Linked DNA regions of Homo sapiens: region 1 is linked to region 2. Evidence: fine-mapped expression QTL. Tissue or cell type: thyroid. Region 2 holds a variant in brackets; the other region holds the start of a gene. All regions are shown on one strand. Distances are from middle to middle.

Evidence for each region. PIP is the estimated chance that this variant, and not a neighbour inherited with it, causes the effect.
Region 1: SLC6A6 starts here. The variant in region 2 is fine-mapped to the expression of SLC6A6 in thyroid (GTEx, PIP 0.98).

What each region holds. Positions count from the first base shown.
Region 1 is chr3:14,397,784-14,405,868 of GRCh38, reverse strand. SLC6A6 (solute carrier family 6 member 6) reads right to left here and starts at 3,263. Exons shown (of 15, transcript NM_003043.6): 1 at 3,022-3,263. LOC105376959 (a long non-coding RNA gene) reads left to right here and starts at 3,462. Exons shown (of 8, transcript XR_007095825.1): 1 at 3,462-5,208; 2 at 6,632-6,725; 3 at 7,360-7,540. RefSeq lists enhancers at 2,080-2,159, 2,230-2,289, 3,610-3,779, 3,790-3,839 and a silencer at 2,940-3,469.
Region 2 is chr3:14,206,905-14,215,006 of GRCh38, reverse strand. No RefSeq gene overlaps it. Among named protein-coding and RNA genes, the nearest start is that of LSM3, 32 kb to the right of the region's middle. RefSeq lists enhancers at 4,412-4,912, 4,913-5,413. The variant T/C (reference allele first, on the strand shown) is at 4,242.

The DNA.
Region 1 (8,085 bases), 190 kb before region 2:
CTACCTCTGGGACAGGAGCTCCTAGAAAGCCAACACTCTACCTTGAACCCAGTGCCAGCCCAGAGCTGACCTTAACCAAGGTCTATTAATCAACTAAATGAAGCACATTAAAAAAGCGCTCTCATTCTCACTTGAAGGCTTCCTTAGGCATTTCCAGATCCACAGCTCCTGCCCAGAACCCATAAATTCAAACGAACGCTCTGGCCAAGTTGGCAAACACAGGAAAATGAGATGCAGCCCCAAAGAATCTGACTCTTGCTCATGACCTTCTGCAGAAGTGGGGAATCAGCATGTACCTGCCAGGGTGGCCCTGGGATTTCAGGCCAACCCCAATTCCCAGGCAGACCCCCTCTGGCTGCAGCTAAGCTGCATTCTGGGGAGCCCTTATAATTTACTTCTCAGCTTTTTCTATATACGGGAATGTGTTCAATGACTCACAAGTTTCTTATCATTCAGGACTTTTGGAAAGACTTTCAGAGAAGTACACCTCCCAAATCCTTTGACAAACTGACAGGCGGACAAGTTCAGGTTAGAAAACAGAGTCCCCAGAGCCCGGACTGCCTTGTGGAGGGCTGACCCCTGCAGCAGAATGGGTAGCAGGGCTCAGGGGAAGGCACAAGGAAGGGAGAATGAGTAACTAGGGACAGAAGCAAGGTGCAAATGGGTCCCATAGGCTCACTTTCCTGCCCTAAGGACTGGGACACCTTTGTTCCTCATTTTCCCCAGGCCCCGGTTCAATTTCAACTCCCGAGGATATCAGTGACCAAAGCCCCATGGGGCCAAAACTCACAGCTGAGCTAGGGAAAACCTTTTGAAACTTAATTTTGTCCAGTCAAGGCAAAGTCCCTTAGGTGGCTCTCAGTTTGTCCATCTATAAAATGGGTACTGCTCACCAGGCCTCCAGACTCTGAAAAGCAGATGTGGTCCAATCACCACAGGTTGAGGTGACGGGAAGGAGGCAGGGGAGGATGATTGCAGCTGAGCCATGGGTTAGTACAAGGGTGTCCCCAAAGGACAAAGCCTCCAGAATGCACCTTGGCCCTTGCCATACACCACAGTGACCCAGGACCTCGTGACACCCTCTAATCAGCAGCTCTACAGCCGAGCCCGGCTTTACAGCTTACTACAAGCTTATTCAGCCTCATCTCCCTCAATCCCCTCAAGGACGTAGTGAGGCCGGCACTGGTGTCCTTGCTGCCCAGGCAGCCAAGCCGAGGCTCAAAGAAACCAAGGGAATCAACCAAGGTCACCCACCCATTAAAACAAAGCATAGGACTTAAATCAGTTCCCTGGGGACAAGCTCCTACCTCTGGTCCCTGGTTTACTCTATAACCAGTCTGCCCCACCCATTTTACAGGTAAGGAAACTGAGGCAGAAAAAGGGTTGCCCAAGGTCAACTGGGGGCTGAGCCAGGCCTAACACCTCCCACCATTCTACCAGTCCCACCCTGTTGGGGGTTCTTAGCCGTGCTAGGCCCCCTTTGGATCCTCTCCAACACCATCTTGATGAAATTCCTCCCCCACCCCACCTCCTCATGCCCACCCCACAATCCCTGGGTGACTCCCTGGTCGAGAGGGAGGCAGGTGGTTGCTAAGCACTCACCCGCTCTCTCTCTCATAAAAATAAACTCCTTCTGGCTAGGAGACTCTGGACAAGATCCCCTCCCTTCTAGCCAACAAAAAATTAAAAAGAAATTTTAAAAAGATCTCCTCAGTGACATTTACTTGAACGTCAGCTGTGCCAAAGCGGGGGCCAATTTAGTGAAGTCCAAATGGAGCCATGCGCCAGTAAACCTCAGCCCGAAGACCCTCCATTCAAGTGTCTGGGCAATTACTGAGCTGATTTATTTCCCCAGACAGGAAACGGGGGCCCAGGCTGCCTCCCAAGCTTTTGGGGCTGGTCCTGGGGATGCCGGGATCTGGCAGAGGCCCAACAGTGACCAAAATAGCCAGGCCGGTGGCCCTACCCGGCACACACCTCCCTGCCTGGGAGAGCTGCCCACAGGTCTCCTCTCCAGTCCAGGCTGAAGTCCAGGCTGAAGCTTTGAGGCTGTAGGAGGAGGTCCCTGGAATTCTCTCTGTGTGGCTTCCCTAGTGGGAGGGGGACGAGAATCTCCTACTCAAAAGAGGAACCCACAGAAGGAAGAGAAATAGTCTGGAGGGGGAAGTGTCCTGCTGGCCCTGCCGGCTGTCCACTACCCCTTGGCTGCCCCTCCGGGCCTTGGTCCCACCACTCAGGACTGCTGGACGCTGGCGCTGCCACCTGCACACCACCTATGGAGTGCATGCACCTATGGAGCCACGCTGCCCTATCACCTCTCCCCACTCAGCGCCGGCCCTGGAGAACCAGCTCTGGCCATTGGACCCTCTAGGCACCAGGGACACCCTCTTGGGTACAGCCGAGGACACACGAGTGCCCACAACCAGGGACCTGGAGACACAACCACACTCAGGGACACGCACGTGCACCTAGCCAGGGCCTGGAAGACGCAGCCCCCCACACACAGATTCATGCAGACACAAACGGGGACACACAAGAGCACACATCCAAAGACAGCACACTCAGGTATCACACACAGAGAGGCACACACACACAGCCCAGCACGCAGAGAATAACAGACATGCACCGGAACACACATGTGCACGCTGCTGGGGACACGGTGAAACAGTCACCCTCAGAAACACAGACACAGGGATACGGAGGCACATGTAGGCATCCTGACGGAGACAGGCACACAGATATGCCACACACACACACACACACACACACACACACACACACACACACACACTCTCCTGCCGCCCGCACCAAGAGCCGGAGCCCTTTTGCCGGGGAAACAATAACAGCCCCGCCAGCGGGACTGAGCAGGCGACTCTCGGTCCCTTCCGCGGTGGTGAAAGGGGCGCCGGATGGGCGCACGCGGAGGGGAGGAGGCCGGGACTGCGGCGACGCGGGGATGGGGAGGGGCTGCAGACGGCGGGCAGCGCCGGCTGCGCGCCCAGCTCCCGGTCCCTCCGGTACCTGGGGTGGCTGCGGCGCCGCCCGCGCTCTGCTCGGCTGTGCCGGGTTCCGCCGGCCGGGGGCTGCCTGCCCGCTCGCTCTCTGACCCGCTGGGTGAACGCTCCGCACTCCCTCTTGGCGCAGCTTGTCCTCTGGGCTTGCGGTCCTCGGGGCTCGGCGTTGGCGGCGGCGCGAAGGAAGCGGTAATTTATAAGCGGCTTCTTCCTGACCTCGCGTGTCTGTTGTCTGAGCAGGCAGCTCTCAGCATCACCCATCCTGCTGGGTGGAAAAATACCAGCTCGGCCGGGCCGGGGGCGGGGCCGGGGCGGGGCCGGGGCTTCCAGCCCCGCCCCAAGTGCGGACACACGCGCGCACACATACACATGCACACACATACACGCAAACACGCACGCGCGCATGGGCTCGGACACACAAAGAACCCGGGCTCGCCGAGCGCGCGCGCACACCCTCATGCCGCGCGGCGAACGTTCGTTGCCAGGTGCGGCAGCCCGCCCTGGGCGCCTCCTGCCTGCGGAAGAAGAGCAGGACAGACCCGACCCGACCCGCCTAGTCCTTTCCTTCACAGCAGCCTCCAAACTCCACCGCTCGCCTCTTCCGCCAGGCTCCTAGGATGAGGCCCAGGGCTCCTGGAGCAGCCAGGTGCAAACCAGACCGGGCTCGCACTCCACTGCGTTGCCCTGGGCGATCGTCCACGTTCTGGGAGACTCGGTATGCCCCGGGAGGGTGGCCTGAGCTTGTGGTGTGAAGCCAGGTACAGAGCTCCAGAATCCTGGCCTTGCCATGGCTGTGTGACCCTGGGCAAGTGACTCAATTTCTCTGCCTCAGTGTCCTCATCTATAAAATGGAAAGGAAAATAGTAGCGCTTGTCTCCTCCGGCTGTTATGAAGATCCAAGGTTAACAGCGTAGAGAACTCGGAACGCACCCGGCATCTAGGAAGTGCCAAGCCAGTGTCAGCTAATGTGACTATTTTTAAATGGAGATGGGGAGTGTGCCATTATTCTTGTCCTTATTTGAATGAACGGGCCCTCAGGGACCATTTTCCACTGCCCCGCCCTGGCAGCATGAGAGGGAAACGCTGTGAGAACCCCGAACCCCAGCCTTCTCCTGTCCCTCTCTCTCTCTCTCTCTCTCTGCACCTGGGAGGCGGGGAGGAGAGAGCCGATCCTTCCACCATTTACACGGAGAATGAAAGAAGAAATACCGGCCAGGCGCGGTGGCTCATGCCTGTAATCCCAGCACTTTGGGAGGCCGAGGGGGCAGATCACCTGAGGTCAGGAGTTCGAGACCAGCCTGGCCAACATGGCGAAACTCCGTCTCTACTAAAAGTACAAAAATTAGCCTGGCGTGGTGCCGGGTGCCTATAATCCCAGCTACTCAGGAGGCTGAGGCAGGAGAATCCCTTGAACCCGGGAGGCGGAGGTTGCAGTGAGCCGAGATCACGCCACTGCACTCCAGCCTGGGTGACAAGAATGAGTCTCAAAAAAACAAAAAAGAAGAAGAAGAAGAAATACCACACAGGTCCGACCAAGAGCTGCCCCCACTCAGGCCAGGATCCCTGCCTGGAAGGGCTCTGCAGCCACTCTCCCTGTACAGCCCCAGGATGCTAAGGAGCATCCCGAAGTGACACTGGCTCTCCCTGGAGGCCCCTGCCATCGGACTCCAACCTGACCTTCCAGTGGGTGCTCCTCATACTGGCTCCAGCCAAGACAGACGAGGACCACTGGGCACATGCCCTTCCTTGCCTTCCTGTCACCCTTCCCACCCTTCTCTGCGGGCCCCGGGTGGCCCCTTCCTCCAGGAAGCACCTGGGGATCAGCAGTGCCTCTAGGGTCCCAGTGGCCCACGTGACATCTGCTTCTGGCCACCTGAGCACTCTCCTTTGAGTTCAGGGTCACTGTACCCTTTTATAGGTGAGCAAACGAAAGCTGAGGAAGAGGAGTGACTGGGTCTCCCACATCCCTCTGCTTCAGCTATGAGGTTCCCTCATGAACTGCAGGAATAGACGTCAAGCAAAAACTCCTCAGACGCCCTGTGCATGTGTGGTCGCACAGGGCACAAAGACTGAAGCAAAGGGGCAGGTCCTAGCGTGGGGAGGGGACTCCAGGATTGAAGTTTGAACCAAAAGGAGGCTTTGACTAAGCCACGAGCAGTGAAGCCGGCAGGAGAGGAAGCAAGTTCTAGCAGAGGTGCCTGCCGTGCGAAGGCCTGAGAGCAAGGTTGTTGGTGGCAGGGCTGAGCTTGAGGGTCTGAGAGAGTGAGCAAGGGCAGTGGCTGTGGGAGGAGGGAAGAGTTGTGTGTTCAGAGCTGCAACTTGGAAAGGCCCATGGGATCCTTTGACCTCCAGGTAGGCCAGCGGAGCCTCATGCAGGTAGTGCCAGCGCAAGACACACGAGTGAACCATCTATCCAGTTACCAGCTCCATGAGGGATGGGATCTGTTCTTTTGCCTCCATCAACTCCTGGAGTCTATCATAGGCCTGACACACAGTAGGTACTCAATAAGTGTTTGCTGCATTTATTTTAACGTACTTTTCTTTTTTTTCTTTTAAAACGGAGTTTCGCTCTTGTTGCCCAGGCTGGAGTCCAATGGCGCAATCTCAGCTCACTGTAACCTCCGCTTCCTGGGTTCAAGTGATTCTCCTGCCTCAGCCCCGCTAGTAGCTGGCATTACAGGCATGCGCCACCACGCCTGGCTAATTTTGTGTTTTTAGTAGAGATGGGGTTTCTCCATGTTGATCAGGCTGGTCTCAAACTCCCAACCTCAGGTGATCTGCCTGCCTCGGCCTCCCAAAGTGCTGAGATTACAGGCGTGAGCCACCGTGCCTGGCTTTAACTTACTTTTCTTTGGCACTTAACTATGTACCCTGCACAGTTAAATGCATTTTAATAAGTTAACCCTTTTCATCCCGACAACACCCCTATGAGATTGGTACAATTATTTCTTCCGTTTTATAGAAGGTAAAACCGAGCCACAGAGAAGTTAAGTAACTTCCCCAAGGTCACTCAGCTGGCAGATAGTAGAGCTGGAATTCAAACCTAGGCCACCTGGCTCCAGAGGTTACAATCTTGAATGAGGGGATTCTGGGTGGGCGATTGCCAGACAAAAAAACCCAGCCCCAAGGAGAGAAAGGAGGAGAAGGAGGCAAGAAGAGCCCCAACCTCAGCCCCAGGGAGAGGTGGCAGATGAGGTGGAAAAGGGATGGTCAGACCGGAGAAGGGGCCAGGAGGAGCCAATGCCAAAGCTAGAGGCATGCACAGGGTGGAGAGAGCTCAGTGCGGGAGGCCACAGACCCTAGCTCCACCTCAGCCCTGTGGCTTCCCAGTTGTGTGACTTGGGCCTGCAGGCCTGCTCTCTGAGCCTCAGTTTCCTCATTGTAATATGAGATAAAATACACCCTGCCTCAATGAGCCATTCTGAGGAGAGGAGAAGTCTCGAACTGGAGGCCTTAAACCGAATCCAGCTCCCAGATGTGCTTCTTTGGCTGTCACTGAGCTTTAATGTGTTTGGAGTTAATTTTTATGAATAAAAGCTTGGAAGATTTCACATTTAAAAAATCTGGCCAGGCTGGGCAACAAAGTAAAATTCCATCTCTATGAAAATTTTTTTTAGAAATTCGCCGGGTATGGTGGTGCATGCCTATGGTCCCAGCTACTCAGGAGGCTGAGGCAGGAGGATCACTTGAGCCCGGGAGGTGAAGGCTGCGGTAAGCTATGACTACACCACTGCACTCCAGCCTAGGTGCGAGAGCAAGACCCTGTCTCCAAACAACAACAACAACAACAAAATCTGAATGCCTGGTTTATCTTGAAATATGGCAAAATGGGGCCACCCAGGCCCATTAACCCCCTGTCTACAATGTCCTGGAGCTGAGGGGCATTAGCCACCCTCTCACATGGGCTCCCCAGGGTGCCACAGCTCCCTCCTAGCTAGTTTGCTCTTTTCTGTCACCTACCGGCCCTTGCAGGGAGCTGAATTTGAGACCCATGATGCACTTTGTGCACCCTGCCCCCTCAAAGATAACTGTGAGTACCAAGGGAAATGGAAAGCTTTGGCAACAAGAAGGGAGCTTCAAGGAAAGCCAGGCCGAGGTTCCCCTCAGAACCATAGACTAGCCTGAAATTCCACTGGGACTAATTCTTCTCATTTCAAGAATGAAAATCGATTGCTGGACAGAGCTCCCGGAGGGCCAATTTTCAGGCTGTAGTCTACAGCCGTCCACGTAGAGGCAGTGAACGAAATTTTTCAAAGCCTACTTTATGATTACTTTCTTTAGCAGCTCTCAACAGTAAAATAAAATTGATCTAGGACTTTGAACAAAACTTCTCGCCCCTTTCTAGGGAAGAGTTTGTCTCGTCTATCAGGCCACCAACAAGAGTTGTTGCAATGCCTGTGGGAGGTGCAGCCCACGCTGGGCCACCTGGCCAGCTCAGGGATCCTGCTGGAGATCGAGGATTGTCTGGTCGGCCTCTTACAACTCTCAGAACATCATCCCTGGGAGCAGCCCTGAAGAGACCAAGGGTCAGTGGCGGGGCTGCTGAGTGGCTGCCTCCCTGACCTGGCCAGCATTTCCTGGGCACACTGCAGTGTGTCCACGTCCCTGGGTGTGTAGGTGGCTGCAGAGCCTTGTCAGAGCATCTGGGCCTTCAGGGATCTGCTTCCTGCCCACTACCCTCCTCTTGCCTGCCTGCAAATCTCAGCTCCATCCCTCATGGGCTGTGTGACCTAGAGTGAATAATGTGACCTCTCTGTGCCTTGGTTTCTTGATTTGTACAGCCTGATTAATCATAACCCCTCTCCTGCAGATTGTTGTGTGGAGTGAGTGGAGATGATTGATGTGAAGCGTTGAGCCAGGTCCCTGGCACACAGTCTAACACTCTGGAAAGCAGGACCCCCACCTACCCCTGCCACCTGTGTGCTCCAGGCTTTCTTGCCTCCAGGCCTTCACCCTTGCTGCTCCCTCCTGCCAAGCACTTTGCCCATTGCCCTTCTGCAACCTGGGTCTCTGCCAAACTTGGAGCCCCAGAAAGGGAGCACGCAGGAAGCGGGGATGCCAAGCAGTCCCA
Region 2 (8,102 bases):
GCAATAAAACCTGGGTCAATCTGCACTTTACTATCCTGCTATCTCTGTTAACAACCATTTGACAGTCCTACCTGGGAGGTGTGGCTGAGAGGAATCGTGAACCTGGAGTTAAGACATATATCCCAGGCCTGGCCTATGGACAACTTCTGGCCGCTTTTTCTCTTTCCTCCGCTGATCATCACTTTCTACATCTGTAAAATTGGGAGGTGGAGAGGTGGGGTCTGATAAGAGTTTTATTTCCCAAAGAATTTTCCATAAATTGAAAAAGAAAGAAAACACAGAAGGCTTCCCCCTCCTGGGCCAGTAATTTTGGGAATACGGTGTAGAACAAAGTTAAACAAAAGTATATTTCCTACAGGACTTCTTGGAAACCTCAGTCTGCCCTTATGCGTTGTGGGTCCTAACAGGGAGGTAGACCACGTAGCACTTCCCACACTTCCGCAACACAGGAAACCTTCCCGGGTACAGTATCCTGTGGCTGTGTGGTGTGAAAAAGACTTTGGGAAAAGTTAGATGCGGTCATCTGTAGGATCCCTTTCAGCTCTGAGAAGTTAAAACTCAAAGTGCATTATTTTGACTTAGGGCTCTGTGAGATGCTGAACTATATGTCCTGAATGATGAACAACCACAAAAATCATGGTCAGTAAAGTTAGATGAAGTTCACTTGTAATTGTAGAATTGTAGTCGCTGTGTGGCATGGATGGTAATGACCCAACAAACAGGCCTTGGGCCTTGCTGGACAACAGGGAGCTATGCAGTAAGCCATCCTCGCAATTCCTTTTTTGGAAATCTGAGGATATACAGATGACCCTTTCCACACCCCCAAAGCCTAGGTTGAATATAAAGTCAGAAACTCATGGCTTAAGGAAGGTGCCTTAGAGACTCTGTGTTGCAAAATGAAAAAGGCTTTGAACTTTCGGAGAAGGACCAGACACAGAAAAACCAAGGTCTGTTGCTGTCCGTGTTGTCTGCAGGAAAGACAAAAAGCAAAATGAGCTAACAAGCATCTTTGTGAATCCTCCTGAGGAAGAAATCAGTTCCACAGCAGCCCTGATTACTAATTATAAAAATGTGCATAATGTCATTGACACTCTACTTGGGGAGTTTTCTTTATTGCTTTATTTTGGTGAGTACAGAAAGTACCCATAGAAGAGAAATTAATGGATTCACTCTTGACTGAAGTCCTCCAAGTCAATTTTCACTCAAAATTGAATTTTCCCATGAGAGTTCCCAGGAAGGAGAGGGGTATAGGGCAAAGAGTGTGGCTTTGGAGTCAGACATTTATTCAACAAATGTGTATCTCAGTGGCCACTACGTGCCAACCACTGAGAATACAGCAGCAAACAGGAGTCAGAAATCCCAGCTGGGTGCAGTGGCTTACGCCAATAATCTCAGCACTTTGGGAGGCTGAGGTGGGAGGATCACTTGAGTCCAGGAGTTCAAGGCCAGCCTGGGCAACATAGTGAGCTCCCATCTCTACAAAAAATTTTAAAAATTAACCAGGTGTGTTGGTTCATACCTGTAGTCCTAGCTACTTGGGAGGTTGAGGCTGAGGCGTGAAGCTTGCTTAAGCCCAGGAGTTTGAGGCTACACTGAGCTGTGGTCGTGCCACTGCACTTTAGCCTGGGCCACAGAGCTAGACCTTGTCTAAAATTTTTTTTTTTAAAAGTCTCTATCCTAATAGAGCTGCCACCCTGGCTCTGTTGCTCATCAGCTGTGTGAGCTTAGACAAGTCACTTGATCTCTCTGAGCCTTAGCTCGTTACAGCATGGTCACAGGATTGTTGGGAAAGCTAAATGTCAGATCTTATTTGTAGCATGTCTGGCCCAGGGCCTGGCACATAACCAGCCTTCTAGAAATGGTAGTGGGAATTCCGACTCTTGTAGCCAGAGGAGGAAAAGGGAGTTTAGATGGTTTCAGAGGGCTTCTCTCCGAAGGCTGAGCCTTTAAGGGAGGTATAGGATGAGCAGGGGCATCTGAGAACAACAGTATACCTCCATGAATAAAGCCTCGCTTTTGCTCTCTGCACCTCACCTGACCCTCCACTCTCTCCCGGGTTCACCAGCATAGACAGGTGCTGGGCTGCTGACCCCTAGGCCCCAGGCCCATCCAGTTGTCTGTGTTTTCACACAGAGCCAGCTTCCGAGTCACAAGGTCAACCCCACCTGCCCTGGCCTCCTGGGTCCCCTCCAAGGTTGCAGACATGCCTCCATCCCAGCCTGGGGCAGGCATCCCTGCCAGGCACACAGAGGCCATCAGGAGGCAGGTGGGACAGATCAGTTCCCACTATACCCAAGAGCAGCTCAGTCATATCCCTGGGAGGCTGAAGATAGGGGCTCTGTGCTTGGCCTGCCACTCTCTTGCCTCCTGCCGTGAGCTGCTTACCTATGCCCTCTGAGTCCAGTTCTCCCTCTGTAGACAAAAGGGGTTTGATCAGACCACCCTTTGGTCAGTCCCCCAGCTTCATCATTCTGCAAGGTCCAACTGCTCCTCACACAAAACGCCTGGCAGAAATTTGGAACCAGTCAAACCTCAGTTTGCTCAGTGTTATCTCCACTGGATGAGCTCAGTTTTTCTGTCTGCAAAAGAGTGGGGTTTATAATCCCCACTTTTAAATCAAGACTATTGACACACTGGAAGGAACATGGGTCTTGAGTCGGATAGGCTTGAGTGTGAATACTGGCTCTGCCATTTGCAAGGCAACTCACTTACTCTCTCTAGTGAAACTGAAGCCTCAGTTTCTTCATCTGCAAAATAGGCCTGTAGTATCTCCCTTGAAGAATTGTCGAGGTAAATGAAGCAAGCTATGCATCACACCTGCACATAGCAGAGGATTAAGGCTGGGGAGCTGTGATTATTGTGGTTGTAATTTACTCTAAAATGAGGGCCTGGCTAAGCTGATACCATCGCAATTTCTACTGCTGTGCTCACCCTCTCTGGGTTTTTGGTGCTGGGGTTCCTCCAGTCTCTCCTCAGTAACAGAGCTTCCTGTGGCTGAAAGCTACATCCAGAGGGATTCCGGGGGCTCCCAGGATTCCTTTCAGGCTACAGAGTCCATGGTCCATGCAACCCTTCCTGTTGAAAGTTATATTCTCAAATACATATGATGTGTCCTCAAACATATAATAGCCTCCCTCCCTGTTCTCCTGGCTCGTGTGCTGTAGCAGACATAAATCCCTTCTGTGTGTCATTCCAGTCTCACATTTTCTCACCCCACAGAGCCCTTTGTCCCTGCGCACTGCTGCACAGCTTGGATTGTCTATTCAGAAGAGGATGTGGCACCAAAAGGGACTAGAATCTCTGAATCTTAAGGTTGGAGGAAAATGAGTGGTACTTAGTTGAACCCCTCTTCTGATTGAACTTTCTCTACCCCACCTTTTGACGAGGGTTCATTCACTCTATTCTTACTTTCAAGGAAGGGGAACTCACTAAAGAGAAAGGTGGGGCATGTCATCACCCACACAGTTGCCAGTTAGCTGACTGGCTTTCTTGGAAAAATGACATTCAACAGCAACAGAAAAGCTTCTATCATGGGCAAGCCATCTGGGAATAATAGCTCCAAAGAACAATACTGTTTTCTTGTCCACCCCCTCCTCAACTCTGCACTTTGTGGTCACAAAAAAATGAAGATATGACATTTTTTTCTCTAGAATAACACAACTTTGTTAATGTGTCTCTTTTATTCACCCACCCATTAAACATTCCCGTAAGGAATCTACTTCATATGCCCACAGAGAATGCATTTCAATTCCCAACATAATGAGCCAGCTTCCAGAAGGAGGAGAAGCATTTAGAGGAACAGATAAATCATACCCTCTGCCAAATACCCTTTTCCACCTTCCAACGGGGAGCTCAGAGCCATCCTAGGATGTGACTCAGTGGGGAACATTGTTTTCATTGTGCAGCTTCAGAAACTGAGGCACAGAGAGGTGAAGGTCACCCAAAAAATGTGAGGCGCGAGCATGCACTAAATCCCAGGAATCTAAGACCTCCCAGCATAGTAATCCAGCCCCTAGGATAAATGTTTGTCTTGCTAGCCAGGGAAATTTACTGTGGCCTTTACAGAAGGCTTCTTCAGGCTCAAGATTATAAACAGGGAAACAGGACCTGGCAATTAGTTGAGTGATTCACTGGCAGAGAAAGCTTTCAAGTAGGGAAAGGATCAGTGAGGTGAAAAAAAAAAAAAAAAAAGAAACATCTTTTAAGAAGTTGTAGCTCCCCACCCCCACTCCTTTACATTG[T/C]TTTAATTCTTCATGCTCAGTGTCTTCATTAAACATTTTTGAAGTGGGTTTTTATTTGGTTACTTTGATTTGCTTCTTCTGTCAAGGTTATTTGATCTCATCTCCAACTTAGATTACTTCTAAGGTTGAACTGAACACAATATTTGCCCAGTGAAACAGACAGCCTTCTTGCTTATGGGAAGTATAAGCTTATGGTCCATGCAACCCTTCTTGTTGAAAGTTATATTCTCAAATACACATGATGTGTCCTCAAACATACAATACCCTCCTTCCCCCTTCTCCAGGCTCGTGTGTTGTAGCAGACATAAATCCTTCCTGTGCGTCATTCCAATCTCACATTTTCTCACCCCACAGAGCCCGTTGTCTCCTCCAAGAGGCCATGAAATAATAAAAAACAGATAAATGAAATAAATAGTAAATGATAAAAAAATTAATAATTTAAAATACAGATAAATAATAAATGACTGAGAGGCCATGGAATCATAAAAAACACAACTGGAAATGGCTGAGATACAGCGTGTTCTGTTTTGCTGCGGTGTTGAGGCCATGGACACAGGTGGGCGTGACAGCTCCGAGGGAGCCACCTGAGGAGTGGCCAACTCAGCAGCTTCTCTCCTTTACGCCCCTTGTTACCAGCAGTGGAGACAGCATGGGCTTCCCAGCTCTGCCATGTCCTTGCTGCATAACTTCAGCAAGTTGGGCAAGCTTTCGGAGTCTCGGTTTTCTCAGCCAGTCCTGCTCACCAGCAGGCTCCGTGGTGGTGGGGCTGTGCCTCTGGTGCTCAGCACTGTCTTCTTAAGCGCCTAGCAGGTAACAGGCATTCGGCACGTTTCTGCTACATGAAGGAACAGAATAAGAGTACTCCTACCGCTGTTGCTGGATCATGGTGAGGATTAAATGAGAAACTGTAAATAAAAGCCTAGAGTGTTTTAGATGTGCATGACACAGTAGCTCTTCCATTGCCAGATGCCTTCCTTCAGTGTCAGCACGGGGAAAGAATCCAGATGTTGCACCAAATCCAGATGAAGCCCCTTGTTCTGCAGATGAGCAAACGGAGCCTCAGATCTGTAGATCTGTTCATTTGTGCATTCATTCATTTCACATAGAGGGGACTATCAAGACAGAAAGAGTCTCCATGCTTATGAAGCTTACCTTCTAGTGGGAGGAGACAGTAAATGAGTAGACAAATATATAAACAAGAATAGTGTCACATACTAACAAAGTGCTATGGTGAGCAAGAACACAGGGGAGTGTAATGGAGGAGGGCTGGGAATGGGGGGGTACACTGGTTGGGGGACTAGGTGTGGCCTCCCTGTAGAGGAGGCATAGGATGTAAAAGTGGACCTGAATGACCAGAGGGAGAGAGTCATACCAAACTCAGGAGCAAGAGTGTTCTAGAACACTGCCTTTTGGGTGTTTGCTCTCATTGGTCTCTTTTGCAGGAAGAGGGGACATGACTTTTATTTTGACATAATTTCAGACGTAGAGAAAAATTCCAAGCATAGTACAAGGAAATCTCGTCTTCTCAATCCACTAATTGTTTACGTTTTGCCTCATTCTCTGTCCTCTCTCTCTAAGTATACAATATACACATCACACACACACACACTTTTTGCAGAACTATTTGAGAGTGCACAGTGCGAACATACTGCCCTTTCACCCTATACTTCAGTGTGTACTTCCTAAGAATAAGAACATTCGCTTATATAACCACAGTCCATATCTAATCTACAATGCATAGTTAAATGGTATCAGTTGCTCCAACAATAACCTTTTTAAATTGCACATATTTTTCCAGGCCAAGGGTCACATATTACACTGAGTCCTCATGTTTCGTTAGTTTTCTTTAGTCTGGAACAGTTCCTTAGCCATGCTTTGTCTTTCTTGACCCTGACATTTTTTTAAAGAGTGCAGGCCAGTTATTCTGTGGGACGTCCTGTCATTTGGGTTTGCTGATATTTCCTGAGGATTACTTTCAGGTGACACCGTTGTGGCAGGAACACCACAGAAGTGATGTTGTGTCCCCCTCAGTGCATCACAGCAGGAGGCACGTGGCGCTGTTTGTCCCTACGTTGGGGACATTAACGTTGGTTGATTGGTTTAGGTGGTCTCCTCCGGGTTTCTCCACTAAAAAATTGCCTTTCCCCCCTTTTTAATGAATGAGTAATTTGTGGGGAGGCACTTTTAGAATGTAAGTGCTCTGATCCTCACTAGTTTTAGCATACTTCATCTTCTACAACTTATTAGTTGCCACTGTACTGTAAGGAAGAGATTTTCCTTCGCCCCATTTACTTTATTTATTTTTATTTTTATTTTTTTGACACAGTATCTTGCTCTGTCATCCAAGTTGGAGGGCAGTGGTGCAATCACAGTACCCTGCAGCCTTGACCTCCTGGACTCAAGGGATCCTCCCACCTCAGCCTCCTGAGTAGCTGGGACTACAAGCACACGACCAAGCCCAGCTAATTTTTTGATTTTTTTGTAGAGACACTATCACACTATGTTGCCCAGGCTGGTCTCAAACTCCTGGGCTCAAGTGATCCTCCAGCTTCAGTCTCCCAAAGTACTGGGATTTCAGGCGTGAGCCGCCATGCCTGGCCCTACCCATTTATTTATATAATCATATATTTATTTATATAACTATGAACTCATGGCTTTTTATTTTATTCACTAGGTTATAATCTACTGCTATCAGACCATCTCAGATTTGATCAATGAGAGCCCTTCAGACTGAGTTCTGTGTCTTTTTACACAGCCCCACCATTCTTCAGGTATTTCCTTGCCTTCCGGCACAATAAGATGTTTTGGGCTCATCTGGTATGTTCCCTGCCCCAGCCCTGGAATCAGCCCTTTCTCCAATAAGCCTGGTTCTTTTGGTGTTAAAAGATATTTAGAATCCAAGATCTGGGGGCTGGGTGGGCTCCTGCCACCAGGTGTGTTACCACTTCCAGGACCTCTCTGGGGACAGAGCTAGAAAGCTTCTTGAACTCTGATGTGCATATGCATGACTAGGAATATTGGTGAAGTGCAGATCCTCATTCATTGGGTCAGATCTGCCCACAGGGGTGCATTGGAGACTCTGCCTGTCTCACAAGCTTCCAGGGCGTGCAGATGATACCGGTCCACAAGGCTCATCTTGAGCACCAAGGATGTAGGACAGTGGTTCTCAAAAGTTGGTGTGCATGGGAGTCACCTGGAGGGCTTGGTAAGATACATATTCCTGGGCTCTACTTCCAAAGTTTCCAATTCAATAACCTTGGGCTAGGACCTGAGAATCTGCATTTCTAACAAGTTCCCAGGTGATGCTGTTCTTGCTGATCTGAGACCGCACCTTGGGAACCACAAGATCTAGGACACTGGTTCCTAAAAGTGACTACACATTGGAATTCTTGAGGAGGTTTTATTTCCGTTTTTGTTTTAAAAATGGATCTTTAAGGCCCCAGAGATAATTAAACTGGTGTAAGATGTGGCCTGGGCATTGAGAGTTTGATGACCTCCATGAGTGGTTCTGTTGCCCAACATGATTTGAAAAGATTGTTCTAGGAAGAGGTAGGAGCAAATGCAAAGGCCTTTAAGAAGAAATGAGCTCGATATTTTCAAGGAATGGCAAGGAGGCCAGTGTGGCTGGACAGGAGTTGAGGCCAGAGAAACCAGGGCGGATTGAATCAGGAGGCGGTGAGATGGGTCAGGATTGCGGTTGTTACTCTGGTGAGACAGGCAGCCACCAGAGGGCTTTACATAGGGTGATGCGATCTGAAGGCCTTCACCAGGGCCTTCATCCAGCAGTTTCAAGGCCAGCTCTCCTCCTGTCAGTCAAGCGCTTTCTACCCAAAGCAGTTTGGCTTGTGATGAGTAAAGGAT